Regions from separate parts of the Homo sapiens genome. Here all the other regions are reported to be linked to region 5. The links are microRNA targets in miRTarBase. Many come from high-throughput screens and were not tested one by one. Region 5 holds a microRNA gene; each other region holds the end of a gene's coding sequence.
The links. Region 5 holds the annotated microRNA hsa-miR-124-3p (UAAGGCACGCGGUGAAUGCCAA, at 3,193-3,214, opposite strand). A microRNA usually pairs through its seed, bases 2 to 8, with sites in the 3' UTR of a target mRNA and lowers its output. Matches are read on the target gene's strand: a 7mer-m8 pairs with bases 2 to 8, a 7mer-A1 pairs with bases 2 to 7 and ends in A, and an 8mer does both.

Region 1: miRTarBase lists TMED1 as a target of hsa-miR-124-3p. Seed matches in the 3' UTR shown: 8mer at 980-987.
Region 2: miRTarBase lists RIPOR2 as a target of hsa-miR-124-3p. The part of its 3' UTR that is shown has no 7-base or 8-base seed match.
Region 3: the mRNA of KCNK2 is a reported target of hsa-miR-124-3p. Seed matches in the 3' UTR shown: 8mer at 4,205-4,212.
Region 4: the mRNA of DIPK2A is a reported target of hsa-miR-124-3p. Seed matches in the 3' UTR shown: 7mer-m8 at 3,363-3,369.

What each region holds. Positions count from the first base shown.
Region 1 is chr19:10,828,687-10,833,686 of GRCh38, reverse strand. TMED1 (transmembrane p24 trafficking protein 1) reads left to right here. Exons shown (of 4, transcript NM_006858.4): 4 at 474-1,620. The coding sequence ends at 692. DNM2 (dynamin 2) reads right to left here. Exons shown (of 21, transcript NM_001005361.3): 19 at 4,419-4,651; 20 at 3,309-3,560; 21 at 1,784-2,709. The coding sequence ends at 2,640. MIR6793 (microRNA 6793) reads right to left here and starts at 4,714; the gene lies at 4,652-4,714.
Region 2 is chr6:24,802,170-24,807,341 of GRCh38, forward strand. It overlaps RIPOR2 (RHO family interacting cell polarization regulator 2), which reads right to left. Exons shown (of 22, transcript NM_001286445.3): 22 at 2,115-4,304. The coding sequence ends at 4,204. Among named protein-coding and RNA genes, the nearest start is that of ARMH2, 5.8 kb to the left of the region's middle.
Region 3 is chr1:215,234,658-215,239,829 of GRCh38, reverse strand. It overlaps KCNK2 (potassium two pore domain channel subfamily K member 2), which reads right to left. Exons shown (of 7, transcript NM_001017425.3): 7 at 2,740-5,002. The coding sequence ends at 4,685. Among named protein-coding and RNA genes, the nearest start is that of KCNK2, 150 kb to the right of the region's middle.
Region 4 is chr3:143,988,937-143,994,108 of GRCh38, forward strand. It overlaps DIPK2A (divergent protein kinase domain 2A), which reads left to right. Exons shown (of 3, transcript NM_173552.5): 3 at 574-3,432. The coding sequence ends at 905. Among named protein-coding and RNA genes, the nearest start is that of DIPK2A, 20 kb to the left of the region's middle.
Region 5 is chr8:9,900,207-9,905,206 of GRCh38, forward strand. MIR124-1 (microRNA 124-1) reads right to left here and starts at 3,266; the gene lies at 3,182-3,266. It overlaps MIR124-1HG (MIR124-1 host gene), which reads right to left and starts at 3,123. Exons shown (of 3, transcript NR_024281.1): 1 at 483-3,123; 2 at 349-406; 3 at 1-80. LOC124902057 (a long non-coding RNA gene) reads right to left here. Exons shown (of 4, transcript XR_007061170.1): 2 at 4,953-5,000; 3 at 4,326-4,422; 4 at 3,864-3,981.

The DNA of each region.
Region 1 (5,000 bases), not on the chromosome of region 5:
CTGTGTTTGGATTACAGGTGTAATCTTGCTTCAGCCTCCTGAGTAGCTGGGATTGCAGTTGCACATCACCACCCCTGGCTAATTTTTTGTAGAGATGGGGTTTTGCCATGTAGCCCAGGCTGGTCTCAAACTCCTGGGCTCAAGCGATCCTCCCACCTCAGCCTTCCAAAGTGCTAGGATTATAGGCATGAGCCACCATGCTCATCCTTGTACATTTATTTAGGCATTAAATGTTCACAGCAATTTGGAAGCTTATAGAAGAGGAAACAGGCTCAGATAGGTTAATTAAGTTGCTCATGGTCACAGCCAGTGAGTGGCAGGGTGAGGATTTGAACTTAGCCTGAACAAGTCTGTGTTTGCAGCTGTACCTCCCAGGGTTAATACAGCCTCCCTCCGTATCCCCCGGTTTTTTTGGTCTCTGCTCCCTGATGGGTGGAGGGAGGCCTGACCCTTCCCCTCCCGCTGCCCTGTAGGAGTCCATTGAGACCATGCGGACCCGGCTGGAGCGCAGCATCCAGATGCTCACGCTACTGCGGGCCTTCGAGGCACGTGACCGCAACCTGCAAGAGGGCAACTTGGAGCGGGTCAACTTCTGGTCAGCTGTCAACGTGGCGGTGCTGCTGCTGGTGGCTGTGCTGCAGGTCTGCACGCTCAAGCGCTTCTTCCAGGACAAGCGCCCGGTGCCCACGTAGCCCCTGCCATGGAAGGAAGAACGGGACAAAGGAGGGGCAGCAGGGTGTGTGCATATGAGACTTGGGGGTCCCTCCCCAATTTTAGTTTCCTGCCAAAACGGGAGTGTGCAGTCAGGGCCTGCGGTCTGGCCCCATGAGTCTCCTTCCGTCCTCAGCGGGCAGGGAACACCTCTGGCTTGTAGAAGGGACGGCTCAGTGGCTGCACCGACGGTCCTGGAAATCTCACATGGTGGGCACTGCAGCGTTGGAACGTGAGCCTCGGATTTCCTGGCCCCTCTACTGTAAATGTGCCTTAGCCTAAGCCTCCCATCCTGTGTTAGCGTTGCCTGGTGCGGGGCAGGGCCTAACAAGGAAACCTGGGCCCTCCAAGCCAGGTTGAGGTCTGGTAACAGAATGCCAGGAAGGGGGCCTGGAAGACCACCTGCCCCGGCCCCTCTCCTGCAGGGGCCCCACACAGGCATGAGGGATGGCCCGGCCAAAGTCTAGGCAGAAGCCTCCTATAACAAAGGGTGGTGTGGCCTGGGCATTGGAGTCAATAAATTATGGTCAGAAAATCACAAGAGCCTGCTGATTGGGGCTCAGGGACACCAGCCAGGACAGACCGGCCCCCGAGGGGGCAGCCAGACAGGTGGGAGGGGCCTCCCACGAAGCTCAGAAGAAAGGTCGTGCGGGAGCCGATGGAGGTGGTCGCCTGGCACAAGAGAAAAATCAGAAAGCAAAGTTTAACTGAGCCCCAGTTGGGCCACGAGGCTTGGGCTTCCCCACGAGGTGAGAGAAGCAGGGCCTGAGGGTAGGAAGGGGGTGGAGCGCTGGGGTCCCCGCTTCACCAGGCAGCAGCCAGGCCTGTGCACGTGGGGGTGTGCAGGGGGTCAGAGAATATCTGCTCCCACTCCTCACATGCTAAGGAAAGTAAAAGCTCTCCCCTGTATCGAGTGGCTTCCTCTGAAAGGTGACACCCCCGAAAGCAGAGCCCTCAGGGAGATGGGAGGCACTTATGAGTGCAGGGACTTGGGCATCCTTATGGGAGGCCTGATGGAGGTGGCACCCATGTCCCCAGCCTGAACACTAACACAAGAGGCCCACACAGCAGCCACCAGCAGCGTCTTCCCTTTATTTTAGTTTATTAATAGAATACAGAGTGCAGGCACTTACAGTGGTCAAACTGAGCGAGGAGTGGGTGAGGTCTCCTCAGAGAGAGGCCGCCCTGGGCCCACCCATCAGGGAGGCATGGGCGGGAGCTGAGAGGCCCCCAAGACCCCCCGCCACCACCACCCACATAGCCCAAGCCCAGCCACCCTGGGGGACCCAGGAGGAGGAGGAGGAGAGGAATAGGGCAAGGCCGGCCCGGGCCAACGGCTCCGGGCCTAGCAAAGGCACCTCTGGCAGCCGAGGCTGGGCCAGGCTCAGGCTGTGTGGTTAATATGGCCGGGAAGGACTATGTACACCTCAGGCCTGCCAGCTGGGCACTACCGAGCCCACTGGGCCAGGCTTGCCGCTGGGGAGCTCCTGCTAATGGGAAGTTGATATACCCCTGCACCCCAGCAAGGCCTGGGGATGTAGGCGCCCTTGGTGCCCGCACTTATAGAAGGCCTGCCCTACATGGGCTTTCCCAGCCCAAGAAGACCTTGGTAGAGTCCCCCCCAGGCTGGACCCCTCATTCAGGATGGTGTCAAGGGTTCTGGTCCCCCCTCTGCCACCCTGAGACTCCATCCCCCAAAGTGCAACACCCCAGCGCCCCCTGCCTGGAGCTCCAGGGCCCCTTTGCGCAGTGCGGTGTCCAGCCAGGCACAGGGGCCGGCCCTGGACCGGGGCCAGCGTTAAGGAAGAGGCCAGGGCTGCCCACTGGGAGCCTGGTCCCAGCATAGGGGCGGCGGAGGGCCCCAGACCACTGAAGCTCCTGCGCCGCGGGTGCGTGAGGCCCCCCCGAGAGCACGCCCCCCTCGAGGCCTAGTCGAGCAGGGATGGCTCGGCTGGGCGGATAATGGTGGGCCGGCTGGGCGCAGCAGGGGGTCTTCTGCTGCAAAGAGAATAAAGACAGGTGGGGAGGGGGAGACGGCAGTGAGGCCGGGAGCAAGAGGCAGGCCTGGGTTGAGGACCCAGCCCCCACCCACACACCACCCCAGGGTGTTCCCAGGCTGACCTCCGCAAGCCACCAGGGTGTCGGGCAGGAGTGCCAAACCTAGGCATCAACTCGCCTGCTGTTTGACCCTCAGTGAGCCCCCTGCCCTCCCTGGGCCTCAGCTTCCCCACCGGAGAAGTGGGGAGAATAAAGCCTGGCCCACGGTAGGTTGAGGCAGGCAGGAGCAGGAAGGAGAAGAAGGTAAACAGTGGGAGGAGGTGCCCAGTGTGAGGGTTCCCCAGCTGCCTGGTGGCACACCCCAGTAGGCAGAGGGCAAGCTGGGAGCCCCGGAGTCACCAGGGCTCCGCTACTCTGTGACACTGAACAAGCCTCTTGGCCTCTCTGGGCCTGTTTCCTCGCAAGCCAAATAGGGATGAGGACGATTCCTCCACTCCAGCAGCTGGGCACGTAGTGAGAGCTCACTGGGAGGAAGTGAGACAGGAGGAGAGACCCCAGGGTGCAGGCAGTTGGGGTGGAGGGCAGGGGGTTGGCCTTACCTGGGCACTCCTGGGGGAATCCCTGGGGGGATCCGAACTGGCCGAGATGGGATCTGAGGCGGGGCTGGGAAGAGGTCACTGTTGGCAAACACGCTCTGGGGTCCAGGCCGGGATGGGATTGGGGGCGCCGAGAAGGAGGCTGCTGCCCCCACGGGAACAGGAATCAGGGGGGGCCCTGGAGTGGGGCCCCTCACTGCTGGGGGCCGGCCAGGGGGGTGTATGCTGGACACCGGTCGGCGCTGTGGAGTGGGGCTGTGAGGAAGGAGAGGGTGTGAGCTACAGATACAGATGGAGTAGGAGCCCCCGCCATGCCACTGTGGCTGCCAGAACCTGAGGTGGGGGCTGGCTATGGGGACAGCGCAGGCGCAGTGGGATCCTCCCACCCCAACCTGAGCGCCAGTCCCACCTTCCCTTGCCCTCGGCCCCCTCAGGCACTTCCCACTCACAGGGCCCCCTCAGGCCTTGGGCCTGGGATCCACCCTCACAGCCAAAGACACTTCCAGAGTCCTCCAGATCAAGCCCTAATATCTCTAGGGGCCGTGGAACCTGCAAGCCCTGTCCAGACATCCAGATTCCCTCCTGGGCCTCAGTCCCTGCCACCTGCAGGCCTGGGTGCGATATCCTCCCCTTAAGGAACTCCATGGCTCCCCCAGGGCTCTGCAAGGCAGCCCCCTCTGAGGTTCCCTGCCCGACGGCCTCAATGGACAACTCAGGGGCGGCAGCAGCTCTGGCCACGCCTTGCGTTTGCCCCTCCAGAGCCTCCCATCTGCCCTTCTCTGTGCTCCAGGAGGCTCATCTCTCTCCTGTGGCTGCTGCCCCTCCAGCCTCTTACCCCAGCTTCCATTTGGGCTGTGCCAATGGAAGGCACCAGCAGAGGGCAGGCGGGGTATTTATTCACAGGGTCCTGCCCTAGAGCTGTAGGGCTGGCTCGCCCCCATACCCCTTCTCTCCCTCCTCCGGCCTCAGCAGGGCAGCAGCTCCCACAGTGCCCAGCCCTGGGTGCCACCCTTGGGCTGTGTCCTGTTTCCTGCCAGGACCCTGCAGGACACACAGGGAGGGCAGGAACCTGCAGGCCGAATGCTTGAGGGTAGGGGAACCAGGCTTCCGGACCTGTGGCTGCTGGCGCTCTGGAGCCAGGTGTCATCGACAGGCGGGGGTACAGGCGTGGACACAGTGCTGGTGCTGATGTCACCGATGATGTTGAGCGCCTCCTTGAGGGCATGGTACATGCGCAGCATGTCGTCCCGCCGCTGTGCCTGGTCAGCCGACTCCTCCATGAGGCTGCTCTGGTCTGCCGAGGAGTATAGGTAGGCCAGCAGCTCGTGGTGGATGAAGGCCTTCGTCTGCGGGCAGGGGTTGGGGAGGGTCAGGCTTGTGTATCACCCCAACCCAGAACCCACAGTGACTGCTGGAAAAACATCTCTCACAGGGCGGGGCCACCCCCAGACTTTTTTGAAAAAGAGTCTTGCTCTGTCACCCAGGCTGGAGTACAGTGGCTCAATTTCAGCTCACTGCAACCTCCGCCTCCCGGGTTCAAGTAATTATCCTGCCTCAGCCTCCCAAGTAGCTAGGACGACAGGCACGTTGACACCATGCTTGGCTAAGTTTTGTAATTTTTTTAGAGATAGGGTTCCACCATGTGGCCCAGGCTGGTTATGAGATTCTTATTCAACTTATTTCTAGTATCTTGCC
Region 2 (5,172 bases), not on the chromosome of region 5:
AGTTGAGACACTGTCCTGAAAATAAAAGTCAGATTAACAAAAGAAAAATAAACGGAAGTTTATTAATGTGTGTTGTACCCAATGTGCAGGAGAGACTTCAGTTCCAAAGTATTTCTCTCTCTAGGCAGTGGCTTAGGGGCTTTGCTTAAATAGCATTTTAACTAAGAGCCATGAATCCTATCTAGTGACAAGACAAAGAAAAGACCATCTTCAGGCTTCCGAAAGGTGAGAAAATGCCTGAAGGTAAGTTGATGGGAAGAGTAAAGTCTGTTCCTGGGTCCTCTGGCAGTGCTGTCTCTGAGCTCTGGTTATGAGCTGACCAAGGCAGAAAGGAGTGGCAGAATATGTCCCTGTTTTAACCTTTTCACTATAATCTCCAGCATTTTAGAGAGGAATATTTTAGTTGCCTCCAGTTGCCTCTGCCTGGAAGGTTCTTCCCAGAGATAATCCACGTGACTCATCCCAATAGCTCCTCGGGTCATTCCTCAAATGTAATTTTCTGTGAGGCCTTTGCACTCCTTTTTTTTTTTTTTTTTTTTTTTTTGACACAGGGTCTTGCTGTGTCACCCAGGCTAGAGTGCAGTGGCACGATCGTAGCTCACTGCAGCCTCAAACTCCTGGGCTCAAGCAATCCTCCTGCTTCAGCCTCCCAAGCAGTTGGGACCACTGGTGCACGCCACCACGTCCAGCTGGTTTTTAAAATTTTTGTAGAGATGGGAGTTTCAGTATGCCATGCAGACTGGTCTTGATTTCCTGGCTTCAAGGGATCCTCAGCCTTGGCCTCCCAAAGTGCTGGAATTACAGGTGTGAGCCACTGTGCCGGCCCCTGACTACTCTCTTTAAACTTGTGATCTTTGCTTTCTCCCTGTGTCTGTCTTCACCCCACCTTGTGCAATCATTTTTCCCCTTCTCTGCTTTGTTGTCTTCGCTTTGCCAGGATATAAGGCCTGGGAGGGCAGGGATTGTTGTGTCTTTTATTTTTCTCTACTACTCTATTTCCAGTGCCAAGAACAGTCCTTGGCATACACCTCGTTCATAGTAAGTAAGCAACAAATACTTGTTGAATGCATGAGAAGTTAGAGTTCTAATTTTTAGCAAACAATTATTATTCCTTGAACAAGGTGTACTTAGGACTGTCTCAAAATCAAAAGATAATATTTGTTTACTAAGAGGTACTGTCTCCAGGAAAAGTCAGGGATAAAAGTATTTTATTTGAGTTTTTCTGATACAGCGAGAAGTACTGGCATTTTTCAGTGAACTAAGGTTTACAATTTTACTTTACAATTTTGTAAAGTAACTAAGGCAATTTAGTTAAACAGTATAGTAGCAAACCTTATAGAGGAAAATGTTTGTACCACTGACTCAGTAAAAGCAATCACTGGTATTTAACGAGTCACTTGGTAAATACTGTCAGAGTTGAAAGTCAAGGGCTTCTTTGTGATGATGCTGGTGGGGTCTGAGTGGGAACAGAACATACACAAATCAGTGAAGGCACTTTTTATTTTTTTTTCCCCGAAACAGAATCTCACTCTGTTGCCCAGGCTGGAGTGCAGTGGCACGATCTTGGGGTAAGCCACCATGCCTATTTGCCCTCAAGGAGCTCACAGTCTCTGCTCATAGATACAACAGTGAAACTTAGCTGTTTTCTCTCCAATTAGCTTTACAACAAACTGAGATTTATTATCTCTATTTAGAGATAAAGGAATTTCAAATTGAAAATAAAAGCACGAGCTGTGGTGGCTCACACCTGTAATCCCAGCACTTTGGGAGCTCGAGGCGGGCAGATCACCTGAGGTTGGGAGTTCGAGACCAGCTGATCAACATGGAGAAACCCCATCTCTACTAAAAATACAAAATTAGCAGGGTGTGGTGGTGCATGCCTGCAATCCCAGCTACTCGAGAGGCTGAGGTGGGAGAATCGCTTGAACTCGGGAGGCGGAGGTTGCGGTGAGCCGAGATCGCACCGTTGCACTCCAGCCGGGGCAACAAGAGCAAAACTTCGTCTCAAAATAAATAAATAAAATAAAATAAAGGTGAAAATGAGGTGCAGTGTGTTCTGTAAATACCAACTCAGAAAGGGCATGTGAAAAAAAATAACATCAGACTGCACATGATGCTAGTAATTCAAAAATAATTTTTATTTTAACTTACATGACTGAAAGATCAATGAATACAAATGCCACACAACTAAAAGCACCCCTCAACCAAACATAAAATACAGAAGTGAATACAAAAGATCTGGAATTAATTACTCATGCAATAGTCAAAATAAAAAATAAAAAAATGACAAACCAAACACAAAATCCTGTAACATCTGTGTTTGACTTTCTATAAAAAGAACCATTTCAACCATTTAACATAAGCTATAGGCTATACCTCCTAACTACAGACTGTACAATGTACCTTTAAAGTGAAGGATGTATGAATATATATAATATTTATAAATATACAGATATGTACACGATAAGTTCACAGTTGAAAGAACCATTTGCCAGAAGCCTGGCAAACAATTTGCACTTTGAAATGAAATGAGTCCTTTTTAAAAGTCTTGCTAAAATGTAAATATTTAAAATGACATCTAAATGATACAAACACGTCCATAGTACAGTTGATATTCCACAGTTTAAATTACACTCACATATATTGTTTTGATACCTTGGCATACCCCACCTTGTACACTCTTTAGAGGAAGAAAAGATATTTTAATAAGAGCTACTGAATGGTCTTGTACTTTGCTTAATGAACTTGCATCTCTGATACTGAAGCAATAATGGGACCTGATGTTTGAACTATTTGGCCAGGGAATCCTACCAGTGAGTGATTTCCCTGGGGGCAGTAACCACCCCTCAGGATGTCCTTCTTTCTAATCCCACGGTCATTTTTACAGAAGGAGGGACCACTTTAAATGTTCCTCCACTCCTACTCCATTAGGATTTCTCTGACTTCTAGGTTCCTCCACCTCAAAGAGCATCACAGGTTTGTGAATCTACAGCTTTTGGTTTTGATTTGTCTTAGCAGCAAAACACCCCTATGGTAAGAATATCATAAAAAATAGCTCTCATTAATTAAAAAAAAAAAAGCATAAGCTTTGAGTTTTTTGTTTAAGTGTATAGGCATAATCTTAATGTAGTTCTTAGTCATTTACTTATCATTTTTCCATAATGGAAACATGATTTGGGAATTTTCAGGATGGGGAAAAGAAACAAAATAAATTATGGGAGTTTTTTGTTTTTTTTTTTGAGACTGGCTCTCATTCCTCTGTCACATGGGCTGGAGTGCAGTAGTGTAATCTCAGCTTACTGCAACCTCTGCCTCAAGTGATCCTCCCACCTCAGACTCCAGAGTAGCTGGGAGCACATAAAATTAAAACATCTAAACTCTCCTAATGGGTCATTTTGCCAGGTTCTGCAGGCAAACTTTTATTTGAAGATATTCTTTTTTGTGCTTTGTATTGAAAGTAAAGTTAGGTAGCTAAGGGGACTACTCAACCCTGAGAACACGACCGAGAAAAACTGCAAGGCATATGATGTTTGTCGAAGTATCACATGACTATTTCAAGCTTATAGAGAAACTTGCAAAAAAGTACAAAGATGGCTATTTTTAAATTTCATACATATTAAGATAAGATGGACTCTTTCACTGAGTATTATTAGACACAATCGACGATGTAATATATTTGAATTATACCATAGCCCTATTCTATATTGGCCAAAGGAAAAGTAGATAGGTACTGTGAAACGAGACTCTGAATTCTTTCTATAACATGTTTTTTTAGTTGTTGTTGTTGTTTTGTTTTTTGAGACAGGGTTTTGCTCTGTCACCCAGTCTGGAGTGCAGTGGGGCAATTATGGCTCACTGCAGCCTGAATCTTCTGGGCTCAAGCAATCCTCCCACCTTAGCCTCCCAAGTAGCTGGGACTACAGGTGCATGCCACCACGCCTGACTAATTAAACTATTTTTTTTGTAGAGACAGGGCCTTGCTATGTTGCCCAGGTTGGTCTTGAACCTCCTGGGCTTAAGCAATTCTCCTGCGTTGGCCTCCCAAAGTACTGGGATTACAGGCATGAGCCACTGCACCTGGCCTACATTTTTATTTCAGTTGTCGTGTCTCTCAGGCTCTAAACAATTTCCAGCCCAAACCACAGCACCATCCTGATGAAAAGGGCCAGATATTAAGACAGCTGTTAGGCAGTTAACCTGTAATTAAAAGGCTGTGGCAACTTCAGTTCCATGACGACCTCCGACTTTAACACAGTCTCGAGGAAATTTGTCCAATTGTTCATATGCCAGCCGCCCATCTTCTCCTAAATACAGAACATTAAACATGAATACCAATTCAAACAACGTTTTTATTAATTACTCAAAGTAACATAGTGCCATTTGTTTAGGGATGGGTTGCTATAATATGCTATGCTAACTTTTGGTAAGGAAAAGTTATCTTTTGTTATTCCTAATTATGTCATTGTTTTCCAGGTAATGCTTAGAACAACCAAGAACTTTTGAGCTAATTAATGCCAGAGACCAAAAGAATGCCAGGGTATGAAACAGAGTAGAAGTCTTATGGCCATTTGATGTTGATGATTTCATATAATCGATTTATTTTAGAGCAATTGTATGGATTATATTTTAAGTACATTAGGGATTTCAATATGGCTAATGCACTGAACTTTTACATAACTTTTACTTGTATACATTATATATCGATACATCTAAATGATATGTGGTAAAATCAATCTTAGGCTTTCAAACTTCAGCTAAAAATTACTTTTTACTATGTAAACATACAGAGATGCCTTCTACCAGCCACCAGCTAGTTCAGTTTTGTCCGTAACGCCACCTTGAACAGTTAGGATGCAATTGCAAATAATTTTAATGTTTTGTTCTATTTTTCTACTTTAAAAAATGATTTAGAAAATGAGAAAATAAAATGCAAAGACAAGTGATAAGAAGCAGGCTTTCATACATGTAATGCAAGTGAGACAAAGATGGAAATAGTTGTGCCTAATCAGAAGTTCAGCTGGGTGTGGTGGCTCACACCTGTAACCCCAGAACTTTGGGAAGCCAAGGTGAGTGGATCACTTGAGGTCACGAGTTTGAGACCAGCCTGATCAACACAGTGAAACCCCATCTCTACCAAAAAATACAAAAAAAGAGTTAGCTGGGTGTGGTGGA
Region 3 (5,172 bases), not on the chromosome of region 5:
TGAGTCTGGAGAGGGTGGCATAAAGTAGACTAATTAGAAGAAGGCCTTGTAGACAATTTGCAAATTTAAAAACAACTCTTCACCATCAATGACAAGAAAAGAATGATATAAAAGCAGTTGAGTGAAGGGAAAAGATGGTGTTGACTTGGATTAAGGCAATGGCTGTGTACAAATTCAAAACATATTTAGTTTACAAGTCAACAGCTTGGTGATAAGTGGAGATAGAGTTGAGGAAGAGAAGAAGATATCAAGGATGACTTGCCCAGCCAGAGGGATGGTCATGCCATCCGCTCAAATAGATGATACCAGAAGAAGGCCAGGTCTGGGGAAAGATTATAAAAGAGTCTTGGTTCTGTTGAGGTCCGTTTTAGAATTGAAGATACCCATGTGAGTTAGCTTGATGAATCCAGAGCAAGAAGTCCAAGTCTAAAGGTTCAAAATAAACAGAATAAAGACTAGGCAGTGAGTTTTTGGTGACTATACAAAAATACTTTAACAAGGAATGCCAGATAAAAAGAAAAAATAGTTGTAAATTGAGACAAGCCTAACACAATGAAAACATTTTGTAAAGCTAATACTAGGAAAACAATAAACGGCTTTATAAATATTAGAAATTGTAAAAGCCGGGGTTTAGTGAACAGAATCAAATCAAAACAAAAGAGCAAGACCAAAACTCCTGTTCCATGAAACCAATCCCTGTCTTTCAGGAAGTGGTAGTTGAGTTATGGCTGGGGAAGTATCATGTATGAAACAAGAGGGGAAAATCTTTGAGAGGGTCGTTGAGGTGGTTGGGGGAGGAAGAAAGCAAGTGTAGCTTATGAAGCTCCCCCTATATTAAGATAACTACAATACGTTACCCTCAAATGTTTCTGTCAGAAATAACCAGGTTATCCTGTTCTATCTTGGAACTGACACATGAGCATATGCAAGGCCAGTTTCACTATGAGAGGAAATTTTATTTTATTTTATTTTATTTTATTTATTTAGTTTTATTTTTTTGAGACAGAGTCTTGCTCTGTCGCCCAGGCTGGAGTGCAGTGGTGCAACCTCCACCTCCAGGGTTCAAGCAATTCTCCTGCCTCAGCCTCCTAAGTAGCTGGGACTACAAGCATGCGCCACCACGCCTGGCTAATTTTTTTGTGTTTTTAGTAGAAATGGAGTTTCACCATGTTGGCCAGCTGCATCTCGAACTCCTGACCTCAAGTAATCCACCCGCCTTGGCCTCCCAAAGTGCTGGGATTACAGGTGTGAGCCACCGCACCTGGCCAGTTTCACTATGGGAGGAAATTTAAGTAAAATCATGCTAAAGCAAATATCACACATTAATTGTAATGGAGTTATGAACGTTCAAATAAAAAAACCCTTTAGTTTATATAAAAACAAAGTCATACTTACATTTTAATAAGAAATGCAAATCCCAAATAAGTTACAGCTTTACTAGACCAGCAAGAATTAAAAACAACAAAAAAAGAAAGACAAGTTGATCTAGACCTCTAATTCTTAGGAATAAACAGCTATTTCAAATCTTCAGAATGTCTAAATTTGTTTTTTGGTATTCCATTTAAAACTTTAAGTCTCTTTGAACTTTAAGCTTTAAGAGTCAAATAATTCTACTGATTTTTGACACAGAATTAGATGGGATTTGGTCTTTTATGTCATGTGTTCCTTAAAATTTGAGAAATAAACAAAGCCTTACACACGGTTCTTTCTTTTTTTGAAGGCCAAGATGCACATTATTCAATTTCCTCTTGGCCTCAGAAGTTTTACTTTCTTCTGCATTACAAGAGTGAAATACTATTGGAAAACAAGGTGTGTCACATGGACTATGTAGCACAGTATATAGATCTATGTAAGAAATTGAAAGAACTCCAAAAGAACCACTTTCACATTTAGTGGCTGTAAGGTTGGATAGAGAGCATATTCTAAAATCTACATCTAGGGATATAGATTAGGGAGTCCCTGATACTTTCTGTTCTAGTAGTTTTTTTTCAAATATCTTTCCAGGAAAAACTACTCACTCTTATATTGGCCTAATGGAAAAATAAACTCACTAGAAAATTCCACGTTTTGTCAAAATCTTTATCAAGTTTCTCCCTACAAGAAATAAACAAAATAAAGCTTGAGAAAATAAAAGTGATTTCAGTTCACATAATACACACTTTCTTAAAATTCCCCTAATCCTAAGGGTAATGTGGGGGGCTAGTTTCAGAATACTTACTGAGCATCAAATTGTTTAGGAATTAATCAATAAATCTATGTAGGATACGAACAAGGTAAGTAGTCCAAACATTTGTGGTATAAGGTCTAGAAGATCGGTTGGTAACTACCTTCTTTAGACTTCAATACCACCAGGATGCTTACTTGTCTTTTTCTTACAAAAAACACATTCAGGCACCTGTGTTCAGCATTCAGTCTACTTCAGTGTCAAGACAAGGTCTAACAATGATAAAATATGGCATAAATATATGGTAATATAATAGAAACAATCTTGAAACTATATGCGATTTCAAATATCTTATTTCAAAAATGAATTTCAGTATATTTGGTTTTAGTGAGTAGCCACTGAGGAAAACAGTCTGCATGTATTTAGCAAGGGTAGTATCAATGCATCAAAAATATTTCTTAAATATTTTGAATAAAGGAGGGACACAAACTCAGCATGAAAAGTAACATCCTGGAGTTCTACCTACCTAGATCATATCTGAATTCTCAGCAGCAAGCAGGAGACTCAGAAAATGCTGACTTTAATTACAAACTTTATTTGTCAATACAATTCACAGTTTATACATGGCGCATTCCACCATATAAATTTTCGGAACAGTTATTTGAGGAAATGGGTGTAGCTTTCTTTCTAAAAGAGCCTGACTTTCTAAAATTTTGGTTGGATTTTTTTTAACTTTATAAAAGTACTTTTAACAAATTAATTGAATATTTACATTTCTAGCTTAAATTTAAATTTTGGAAAATAAGCGTCTATTAGTTTATTTGCTTCTTTTAAAGATTCTGGGTTTATTTTTCAAGACCCTAATCTGAATGCCACTTATTCAGATACAGCTCCCACCCCCACACACAAAAAAGTAAAAGAAATCAGTTTGCAATTATATTTAGGGAAATTATTTTCTTTCTGCATTTTAAAAATTATATATATATACAATGTACAGCAGATCTAAGTATGAAAATAAAGGAAAGGGTAGCAATTTACGGGGTGCATTTACTGAATTTTTTCTGAATCTTGGAACCATCCAAAGAATTACAGGATATAAAATTAAACTAAAAAGAATAATCAGCCTCTTTTATGTGAAAAAAAAACACAGCAAACTCTCAAAATTTAAATTGTGCTATAACAGCTTTTTCTCTAATGTCAGAGATGAATTATGCCTGCAATCTGCATTTTTCCATGTGCAAAGTCACAGTGATCCCAACTTCAACTTCTGCCCTCACAGCCAAGTCACAACTCCAAAAGTATACCCACAGAAGGCTAGGACTGTGCCCTGCACTCACCACTGTGCCACCTCCTCTCATCTGGCAAAAGTCACCCAACGAAAAGAAAATTATATAAGCCTTTCATACATCAAAAAGCAATTAGAAGCTGGCAGTATACTGTTTATTAGCAAATACTTGTAACACATTGTTTTGCTATTTTCTTTCCATCAGAATGATAATTCACACCCACTGTTTTAAATCCCCTCCAATAATATCCATTTTTAACAGTTTTCTTCTGTCAGGTCATTTAGATAGATAGATAGATAGATAGATAGATAGATAGATAGATAGATAGATAGATTTTCTTCTTCTGCCTTTAAAAATGTATAGTTATTAATAAATGATAAATTCCAAATACTGCCAGGAAAAAAGGGGATTGTTTGCGAGCAGCCAATTTTACCAGCCTGGTCATAATTACACTGTATATATGTACCACTGGTACCTGAGTCAAATAAATACTCAGAGGGGCCACCTCTGCACCTCATTTCTCTGCAGTGCCTTTAACGCTAGGCAACGCTGAGTGTTGCTTCAATGTCCATCTAATTTGGCATCTATTTCATCTTCGGGCATCATCACTTCAGTCATTTTACACACTGTTTCCAGCAAGGTATGGTATTCAAATGGGAGAACTGGGGTAAAAGACTGCAGAGGTGAGCCTAGGGGTGGGGGCAGGGAAGGAGAAACCACACATTAGCTAGAGAGGTTCTGTTTCTTCATAAGATAAGGCACTGACAGAAAATTTCTTAGGTAAAAGGCTGCATAAGAATTTCTTGTCATTTACAAAAAAAAAATTGTTGTCATCCATAAATGGTCCATATCTAGGCTCAGTTAGGTAGACCCTGAAAAGTTAAGAACTGATCCCTCAAAGCTACATTGTTACCAGAAACAATTCTCATTCATTCTGAGGCCTTATGGCACATTAGGGAAAGAGAGAGGAAAACAGTCTGGGCACAAAAAGGCATCAGACATTGCTTGTCATTCCACTCATCAAAGAAAGTGGACCGTTCAACAAGCATCATCAGAAAGAAAGTGCTGGCTCAGAATTCCAAATTCTCTTGATGATAGATGACCATGATGGGTGTATCTATTTTGTTCCCCCTTTGAGCTCATGCACAATTTAAAAAATGCTACCAGCAACAGTCATAAAGAGCATAGAGAAGTCCTCACCTATGGCTATGCCTAAGGTTATTTAAAGAGAGGGCTATTTGATGTTCTCAATCACAGCAATCTCTTCACCAGCACAGTGTGGCGTCAAACCATTCAGATAGATACTCTCAGTCTTCAGTAAGGGAGGCAAGACATCCCTCTCGCTGGTCAGGTGGTTCACTGACAGGGTCCTCCTACAAGGAGTCAGCTCCTGATTGTGGTTTCCAGCCAGTTCTGCCGAGAGCTTCCGCTTGATGGAGGTGGCCCGCTGGAACTTGTCATAAATCTCCACACTCAGTCGCCTCCTGGTTTCTTTGAATTCGGCTGTGACGTTGGCTGTCCACTCAGCAGCGTGTGCTCTGAACTCTCCCACCTGGAACATACAAGCAGAGAAAAGATAAAGATATTGACATGCCGATCAACATTTTCTATGCTTTATCTTCAGTTCATTTTATTTTGGGATTTTAAAAAGAAGAGTGGAGTAGTCTTTTACAGCACTGGTGGTCTGAGAATTGATGAAATTAGGCAGGGTATACACAGCAG
Region 4 (5,172 bases), not on the chromosome of region 5:
TATGGTCGTGATTACACAAGTTACGACCTATTTTTCTAGCGTCACCTGTATCTCCTTGCCAACTACGTTTCTCACACTCTAGCCACAGTGAACTTATTGCTTCGTGAACCAAATGGAGCAATCCCTTATGTCCATGTCTTTGCATATACTGTGTCCTGAACCTAGAATGCTATTTTTTCCTAGTTTCTTTTCAGATTTGTTTTCTTTTAAGACCTAAATCAGATGTTCTCCTTTTTGCAGCCTTCTACAGCCCCAGGGACAAGTGCTAATTTAATTCCCCACTATTCCTGTAGCATTGTGTCATATTTCTTTATGGCACTTTCTGTGTATGATGGAAAGTCGCTAGACTAAACCTGTAAGTGGTAGAGACCTTTCTGAATCTTTCTGCCTAGCGTTAGTGGGCTCCCAGTGAATGTTTGTATGAATTTATATATTTAAATGTTTATGGTTATAATATACTTTTACCTAAAAGTGTAGAACAAATACTATTAATTAGTGAAATATTCTATTTTTGGAAGCAATGAAAACTATTTAAAAAATTTTTTTCTACTTCTGCTTTTCCTCCTTTCACAGATAAACCTGAAAATTGGGATGTATGGTATGAAAGCAAGTTTGATGACTGTGATAAGGAGGCTTGCTTATCATTTTCAAAAGAAATTCTTTGTGCTCGTGCCACTGTGGACCACAATTACTATGCTGTTTGTCAGAACCTCTTATCCAGACATGCCACCTGGCGTGGCACTTCTGGAGGACTCCTTCATGATCCACCAAGTGAAATTGCCAAAGATGGCCGGCTCGAGGCCTTGCTGGATGAGTGTGCCAACCCAAAGAAGCGCTATGGCAGATTCCAGGCTGCAAAAGAACTGCGTGAATACCTAGCACAATTAAGTAACAACGTGAGGTAGTCTATGGTGAACTTTTCTTTTTTTCTCCATTTAAACAGCACTGGCTAAAACTAAACCACCAAAAAACGATCTGAAAAAATGAAATTTGGAAGTGTTACATTCAGAGGATGATAAACTTGCACTGATAGATCTTAATGTTAACATCCATCAAAATAAGACATTACTTCAAAAATCACATGATGCTTCTGCAAATAAGTATGTTCTTATACTTTGGAGGCTTGAGCTGTCATCAGCTGCTCCCCACTACCCCGGAATGCTTGAGTGGATTAATGAATATTGTTAAGCTATTGGAAATGAGTCTGATAGTACATTGGCTTGTGTATCAAAGGGTACTTGGTACTTAGTTTGCATTTACTATCATGATTTTGTGAATCTCTTGCATTTACTTTGAATGTCAAGTCAGATTGGTCTGTTTTATAGGCCGCTTTTTCCTTCTGATGTGTAGGGTTTTTTCCCCCTTTTTTTTTTTAATTAAATTTTGAAAATTCAGGTTACTGTAGGTGTTCATTTAAATTTTTAATAGTTGTCATTCAGTGCTATTTGGTACATATTTACTGTTAGGGCAGGATTCCCAGGTTTACTGTGTTTTTTTTTTTTTTTTTTAAAGAAAGCTAAATATTACATTATGTAAATACTTCTTTTCACCAACTTCTGTAGTTTCACCATTGCATGGTGTCATTTCAGGTTATTTAACAGTTATATCCCTCTATGCCAATAATTAGAAGTGTACACTAAACATGAAGTTTGGCATATGTTGCAAAATGTCATTTTATCTTTTCTAAAGGCTTTAAGAAGAATATACTAGAATCTATATATTGATGTTAATTTTGATTCAGAAAAAAAATACAACCCAGTATCTAAAAAGTGTTAACTAGTCCAAGATAGTAATGCATATGCCAAAGAAATATTACACCTAATCTCATGTTTAGAATTTAAAATAGAATTGGTCAGCTACTTATTCTTACCACCCTACTTCCAGTATTTTAGCTCTGTCATTATTAAATTCAGATCTTCCTGATTATTTTTTCTGTTGAAAGTTAAACTACTGCTTTCAAGTAATTTAAAGTTATCCTACCTTTTATTCATGGGTAGTTTTGCAAAATTAACATGGTAGCCATTGTTTGAATTTAATCGGGCATCATAACTTTTCATTTATTGAGGAACTAATCATTATTACTATAAAGCATACAAATTAGCCAGTCAGCACACTTTGGTCTTCTTTACCTAAGGGTTAAACATCAGAACATCAAATTTAATTATTTGCATAGAAATGTGTGGGCTCTTTATATAAGTTGACTATCACTAACAGGTAATATTTTTCTGTTTGAAGTTGTTACTTTTGTTTACAGCAAAGTTTGATGTAGTGTGCAGTAGTGAGCTCTAGACTGATCTTTTTCTAAATCAGAAAGTGATTAAAGTATGCACAACCAAAGGCAGGTTTTTCTTTTTCATTTATTCAGCAACTATTTATTAAGCATCAACTCTGTGCCAGGCACGTTACTAGCTGCTACATACTGTCTGAACATGACATACGGTTAAGTAACTTTACAATTATTATCAAATACTTCAATGTAGATATTTCTTAAGTTGAAATAGCATTAACTAGGATAATGCTTTCATGTTATTTTATTGTCTTGTGATAGAAATTCAACTTGTACCATCTAAAACTAGGTTGCTATAAAAATAGGAGGATGAAGTCAATAAAGTTTATGCCAGTTTAAAAACTGGAAGGAAAAGGTAAGAGCTCTCCATTATAAAATAGTTGCATTCGGTTAATTTTTACACATTAGTGCATTGCGTATATCAACTGGCCCTCAATGAAGCATTTAAGTGCTTGGAATTTTACTAAACTGACTTTTTTGCAACTTTGGGAGATTTTTGAGGGGAGTGTTGAAAATTGCCAAACACTCACCTCTTACTCAAAACTTCAAATAAAATACACATTTTCAAGAGGGAGCACCTTTTATATTTGATAAGTTTTCATTATAAACCTTATAATACCAGTCACAAAGAGGTTGTCTGTCTATGGTTTAGCAAACATTTGCTTTTCTTTTTGGAAGTGTGATTGCAATTGCAGAACAGAAAGTGAGAAAACACTGCCAGCGGTGATTGCTACTTGAGGTAGTTTTTTACAACTACCATTTCCCCTCCATGAAATTATGTGAAATTTATTTTATCTTTGGGAAAAGTTGAGAAGATAGTAAAAGAATTAGGAATTTAAAATTACAGGGAAAAATATGTAAGTGAAAAGCAATAAATATTTTGTTCACTTTGCTATCAAGATGTTCACTATCAGATATTTATTATATGGCAGCAATTTATATTTTTAATCATTGCCCATTAATAGACGCAGTAAAATATTTTTGAATCAGACATTTGGGGTTTGTATGTGCATTAAAATTGTCTTTTGTACTGTAAGTTACTGTTAATTTGAATATTTTATTGAACTGTCTCCCTGTGCCTTTATAATATAAAGTTGTTTCTACAACTTTTAATGATCTTAATAAAGAATACTTTAAGAATCACACTTTTCAGACTATTTCTTAACTTCAGATATCCACATTTTTCTTGAGTGGAAAGTGAGTTTGAGTAGATAAGTTACTAGTTTCCTCTTGCATGCACTTTAATTAGAATTTTGAGGGAACTATCTGATTGGGTGTGCACCAGGCTTTAAGGTTATGTGTGTTTTCTTTTTCTGTAGTAGTGAGTTTTTAAAAAACTTTTACCACTAAAATGGAATTAAAAGAAAAACTTCATTATGGAAATTTTCAAATGTATGCAAGAGAATAACATAATGAACAGTAGTATATCATTACACTAACTTCAAAAGTTAACAACATGTGGCAAAACTAGTTTCATCTCTAAACTACTTGCTTCCAGCTTATTTTGAAGCAAATCTGAGATGTATCATTACATCTCAGATTTATATTACGCATTTTCTCCTAGTAAAACACAATACTTTTTTTTTTTTTTTTTTTGAAACTGATTCTCGCTCTGTCACCCAGGCAGGAGTACAGTGGCACGATCTCGGCTCAGTGCAACCTCTGCCTCCCGGGGTCAAGCGATTCTTGTGCCTCAGCCTCCCGAGTAGCTGGGATTGCAGGTGTGCCCACCACCACGCTCGGCTAATTTTTATATTTTTTGTAGACACGGGGTTTCTCCATGTTGGCCAGGCTGGTCTCAAACTCCGTACCTCAAGTGATCCGCCTGCCTAGGCCTCTCAAAGTGCTGGGATTATAGGCATGAGCCACCGCGCCTGGCCTCACAATACTATTTTTACATCTAAAAAATTACAATAAAAACTCAGTATCACCAAAGCAGGAAAACTTAAACACCATTGTTTTTCTCAGAAACTCTGGATCCAACTGCAGGGATTCTGAACCACTGGCTGTATACATGGAGCAATTTCATGATCAGTAAGACTAATAACTGAAATTGATTCTAACATGTTGTTATAAATATGTAAACCTATGCATTCAAAATGCTACTAAAACCAGCAACCAAAAACAACAAACTACCTTGGTAACCTTCGAAAGGATATTGAAAAAATCATTCTGAAAACTGCTAAATCGGAGAAAAAGAAACATTTATCTTGCCTTACCTCAGGATGATCAAATTATGAAGGGAAAATTTTGTTGACTACGTAGAATTATTTCAATTAACAAATGCAGAAGAAGTGTTAGAATATCGCTGTTTTTCAATTCCCATTAATTTGACAAATCTAAGCAATGATCATCAATGGCTTCAGAGGCTATTAGTTGAAAAACTGATAAAAAACCTTGTAAGGATAGATGAGAATGGCAACACCGGAACCCACTGGTCAATCTTACAGTAGTGTGCCTTCTGATAAGACTCAGCAGGTACCCAGCACTACCTATGAAGTGTTCGGCCAAAAGACAAAAACCCTGAATCGAATCAAGCTCCTACACCTATCTGTAAATGGAGAGTGAACAGCACAAAGGAACACATTAAAGAACACCATGGGGGCGCAGCCAACAAAATTCTGAACAGGCGATTCTACAGGATAAATAACTTAGTTTTCTTTAACAAGTTGTAGGGAAAAGGAGGAGGGACCATTAAAAGATTTAAGAAACACAAAAATGCAAGTGTTACCTTTGTATACTGATTTGAATAAATCAACTTTTTGAAAAAGTTGAAATTTGAACAACTGAACAATAAGGTGAATGTCTTGGGTAAGCTCATCCATTTTAATTTTGCATCTCGTCATGTAAAAAAAACCACAAAGTAGCTACTTTATATTAAGTCA
Region 5 (5,000 bases):
ACCCACAGAGTAGATGAGGAAAGGGAGGCTCCATCTGTCCTAGGGAGAACGCTTTGCAGCTGCCCCCAGAAGACTCCATTCTAAGGTTGGAATGGGAGGAGGATATTATGTAAGTTCAAGAGGAGGAAAGAGAAAATGTTTTCTCTGTGGAAGCAGCATAGATGGATGGACTTTTGGTGGCTAAATGCCTTCCTCTAAATGCTAGCATTGGATACGGTTATGCGGGAAAATATATGTGTGCATATGGGCACACCCCTCCTCCGAATATCTCTCTGGCAAAAGCTCCTCATACATTCACAAAAGCCGCCCCCCTCCCTTTGGTAACAGAAGTAACTTACAGGAGTTTACCTTTGCCTCTGCTAGAAGGTCAATCTCTTTTCCGCTTAAGAGGAGATCTGGGCTGTTTCTGGCAGGGGAAAGAAGAGTATCACCAATTTTTCCTTTGACACATTTCTAAATCTGGAAGTATCTGGTAGAGTTACCTCAAGAATCATATAAGCTTGCATCACGATGGGGACTGTGATGGCAGTGGTGCATATGAGCCCATCAGGTCCTTCTTCGCGTATTCAGTCAGCAAACTGCCTCAACCGTGTCCTACTTTTTCTTAAGCATATAATTCCCCTTTCATTTAAGCCAGACTGTAGCTAGAGGGGCTCAAATAGGTAAGAGAGAAGATACTAAAGAGTTAAATGCACTCAAAGGGGAGAACTATTCAGATTTCTTATAAAATTACTGGTGGCATAAATAGGCCCCAAATACAGAAGGGAAGGGCTGACCTTCACTCGGACACCTCATTTGAGCACAGAAGGGGCCTGGCAATTACACATGGGGCCAAGTGGTCTATTCATCTCTTTGCCATTTTCAGCCATTAAAGCCCTACATAAACATACATTTCATAATGAGACCCACCCGGTGGACACAGGCAAATGCCCACACCCATGCGCACAGACCTAATAGACCCAGAACACTCCCACACACATTAAAGCTTTCTGGAACAAGAGTTTACATAAGTAATGAAGTAAAAAATATGCCCCTCCCATCATAGATTATCTGCAGCAGAAACCTGGCAGGCGTCAGCCATGGTACCTGTGGTTTAAGCTCTCAGCTTAAAGCATCTGAAAGGGGCATTACGTGGGAAGGCATCTGGAGGTTTTACAGGAGGGCAGCACATCAGCGAAGGGTACAGCAACCTCTGAAGGAATTACGGGGAAGCAGTTACTAAAAAGAGGCTCGTCAATGTGGACGTTTGTGGGGCAAGGGGTTTAGTAATCGGAGGCTTAAACCATGCCTAAGAGAAGCATCCAGCGGCCTTCACAGTGAGCAGAAGGGGCAGAGCAAGGCGCTTCACACCCCAATAAGGCCCAGCACTGACTGCTTTCTTCTTCCCAAACCTGTCCAGAAAGGGCGGAGGGGACACCAGGACTCAGAAAGCTACTGGTTTCGGGGGAGGTATATTTTGAAGGCAACGGCAAATAGACAAGGGCTTGTGAAGGCTCAGGGGTGAGAGAAGCTGTTCTCCCTTTCTGTCCTGCAGCCAAGCTTGCCTTCTGGGACTCCAGAGGCAGCCCAGCACCTGCAGTCTGCAGGATGTGCACTGCAGCTTTCTCTCTGCGGGGGCAAGCAGGTTGTGCCACATTCTGCAGACCCAGAGAAGGTTCTGGAAGTATCTAGGTGAGGTGCAACACACTTAACCTCTGCCTGACTCTAAACACTGCTTTAGGAGGGCAAATGAAGAGCCTAAGAGTTAATAATTACACAAGGATTGCACACAGTAGGTACTTAATAAATATTTGGGGAAACTGAGGCCGGGGAGGGGCCCTGATCCAAGGCATCACTGAATACTAATTTATTTAGCAGGCTAGACTGAGGCTTTGGAGAGGAAAGAAGTCCTCAGTAAGCTTCAGTGGAGACTCTTAGGGCTTGATTATTGTGTCAGGAATCAAATTAATCTCCTAAGCATCCCTTATGGCCTTGGCCTTGCAAAGCCAGGCCTCTGCCATGCTCGGGGGAAGGGATGCAGCAGGCTTCCTGGGCAGAAGGATCCAGCTCTTGGCCTCCTTTCTCTGCTCCTCCCTCTACTGCAGGGACCTGCCCCTCCTCCATTTCCTCCACCTGGAAATTAATGAGCTTAGGTCTTGCCCCATCCGCTGCAGCTTGGTGGTTAATACAGAGCTGGAAATGGGATGAGACTGTGGCAGCGCAGTACGAGGGGGGTCTCTAGGACCAGCTGCTGCTCAGGGTCTAGTGATGGGAGGAAGGCCTGATTTGGGAAGCAGGTTCTTCAGGATGAAAAGCTTAACCCTTTCCATTCCCTGACAGCCTCTTTCAAAACAGTCTTTCCTCAGACCCCCAGTTGCACACATTCTGTTTTTCCTTCTGTTCACATTTTTAAAGGAACACATGTCTCCCTTGGGTCCATGTAGGTTATTGTGCCTCTCCCTTCCTCTGCAGCTCCTGGATCTCTGCCTGAAACTGCAATAACAGCTACAGGGAGGGCGTGAGGTGCTCCTTAGAGCCATGACCACGCTTTCAACTCCGATAGAGCTTGTGAACCCGCTGGGAGCTGGCTCCTTCTTGTCCACATAGCCCAACGACTTCCTTAAGCTTGTCAGGTGCTCTCAGCTCTACAGCAAAGTGTGACAAACAGCTCCCCCTCTCCCTTCCTACCGCCTGCCCTCCTCCCCAAACCTCAAGCAGAACACAATATATCCGCAGTCCAGGCCCTGAGGCAGTCTGCCAGTCTCTGGATGCCAAATTATTATTTTTTTAAGGGCAAACCAAAAAACTCAGCTCAGAACAAAAACACAGTCACGGAGGAAGGTGTTGACCCACATACAATGAGTCCTGAGCCCAGAGAAAAATCTGCACACACAAGCACTCCGCAATGCGCTCCCAGGCGACCCCCTCCCCACGCACACCGCATCTGTGCTGCACAGATCTGCTTCTGTCACAGAATCAGCTTCTGTTTCTCTCCCTGAGTCTGTTTGCATCTCTAAGCCCCTGTCTGTCACAGGCTGCACACCTCCCCACCCCACGGGCTCCGGTGCGGGACAGGCAGCCGGAGGGAGCTCCAGACCCCTCCCCTCGCGCCCGCGGCCGCTGCGCGGAGGTCTGCGGAGGGCGCCTGGCTCGGTCGGTCGCTCCTTCCTTGGCGGGCCCTCGCCGACCCACGGTGCTCAGCCAGCCCCATTCTTGGCATTCACCGCGTGCCTTAATTGTATGGACATTTAAATCAAGGTCCGCTGTGAACACGGAGAGAGAGGCCTTTCTCCTGAGGAAGGAAAGGAGGAAGGAAGGAAGGAAAGGTGAAAGAAAGGAAGAGGGGTGGGTAGAAGATGGAATAAGAAAACCAGGAAAAAGAAATAAAAAGCGGCGCGTGTGCGTGCGCACTGACAGCGGGGAGAGGGATGGGGGTGGGGAACGCCGGAGGAAGGGACCACAGCATCCTCCCCGCCGCAGCTCCCCCAATCACACAGACAATGAGATAACAGCGACGTCTTCCAAAGGCTCTTTGTTCTCCCCCATCCTTTCGCATCCAGGCTTTTTCCTGCAAAGCGGAGGGGGTGGAGGGATGGGGGTGTGGGTGGAAGTGGGAGACGGAGGGGTGCCTCCCCCGTGTTAATTACCCCGGCTCCCCTCGCCCCTTTCCCCGCGCCTCGCCTCCCCTGCAGCTCCAGACAATGAAAAAACAACATCGACCCCACCTCGCCCCAGCGCAGCAACCCACCCACCCATGTCGCCCTCTGCTTCGCCCAGGAAACTGAAGGGGACTAGGAGGAGGAAGAAGAGAGCGAAGGACAAGGAGAGCAGCGGGGACTCGGCAGCGGCAGCCGGGGCAGGGCGCGCGGCCGCCGCCTCTTTACCTCCATCGCTGAGTGGGGGCGCAGCCGGGCCGGGCGTGCCGCAGGGGCGAGTTGCCGCGGTCCGGGGCTGGGACCTGGGGATTCAGCCTTCCGGAACTCGCCTGCTGCAGTCCTCTCGCTCAGGTCCCAAGTGGTGGAGGGGGGAAAGGAAGAGAGACGAGAGAGAGAGAGACAGAGAGAGAGAGAGAGAGAGGAAGAAGAAGAAGAAGAAGAAAAAAAAACCATAAGAGCGAGGCCCATCTGGCCCCTCATCAGCTTTGTCAAGTCTTGCATACGCTAAAATGCTAATGACCTAGATAGCTCATGCAAAATGCAGCAGGGAGGGCGGGAGCGAGGGAGGTGGGAGGGAGGAAGAGAGAGGAGTGCAGGGGGGAGGGAGGGAGGAGAGGCGGAGGGAGGGAGAGAGGGAGAGAGCACCCCTACACTCTCCCCACCCCACCCCCAACTGTCAGCGGGCTTTACCAGGTAAAGGGTGGACGTAGATTTAAAAGGTCACTCGTGTATAATGCGGCTGGATCCCCGGGTCAAAAAAAGGGGGCGAGACAGAGGATGAGAGTCCCTAAAGCCAAAAGGACAATAAGACATCATTTTAAGCCCCCACCCCCATGCCCTCCTCCACCTCTCCACACTGTTTACACACAAATCCTGTCGCCGCCTCATGCATGTGCACGGACATGTCAATTTCTCATCAATTTCTCAGCGCTCCTATCGACAGACACCCGAATTCTCATTCCCAGCAAAACTCATCCACTGGACCCGAGGGAGGAGAAGACCCCTTCTCCTCCTCAGTGCTCTTCGGGCTGGCCCATCCCTACTCACCTCCATCTCCACTCTCTACTCCCTTAGCCCTCCAGGCAGCAGAGGGCTCCTTCTCTTTTCTAAGCCTTGAGTCCCCTGTCCCCTTTCCAACCCCCGCATCTTGAGAAGGAGACGCAGAGTAGCAGGAAAGCCAAGTCAAGTCCACCTAGGTCTCCCACAATTCAGCTACCCCTCCCAGAAAAAAAAAGAGACCCCAACAACCCCGACCCCTCTCCTACGTAGACACTGTGAAAGCAAGCCACAGGGACAAATAAAAGACAATCCGAATACCCTCAGCGTTCCGCACGCCGGGCGGACGCCCTTCCGCAGCGGCCACGC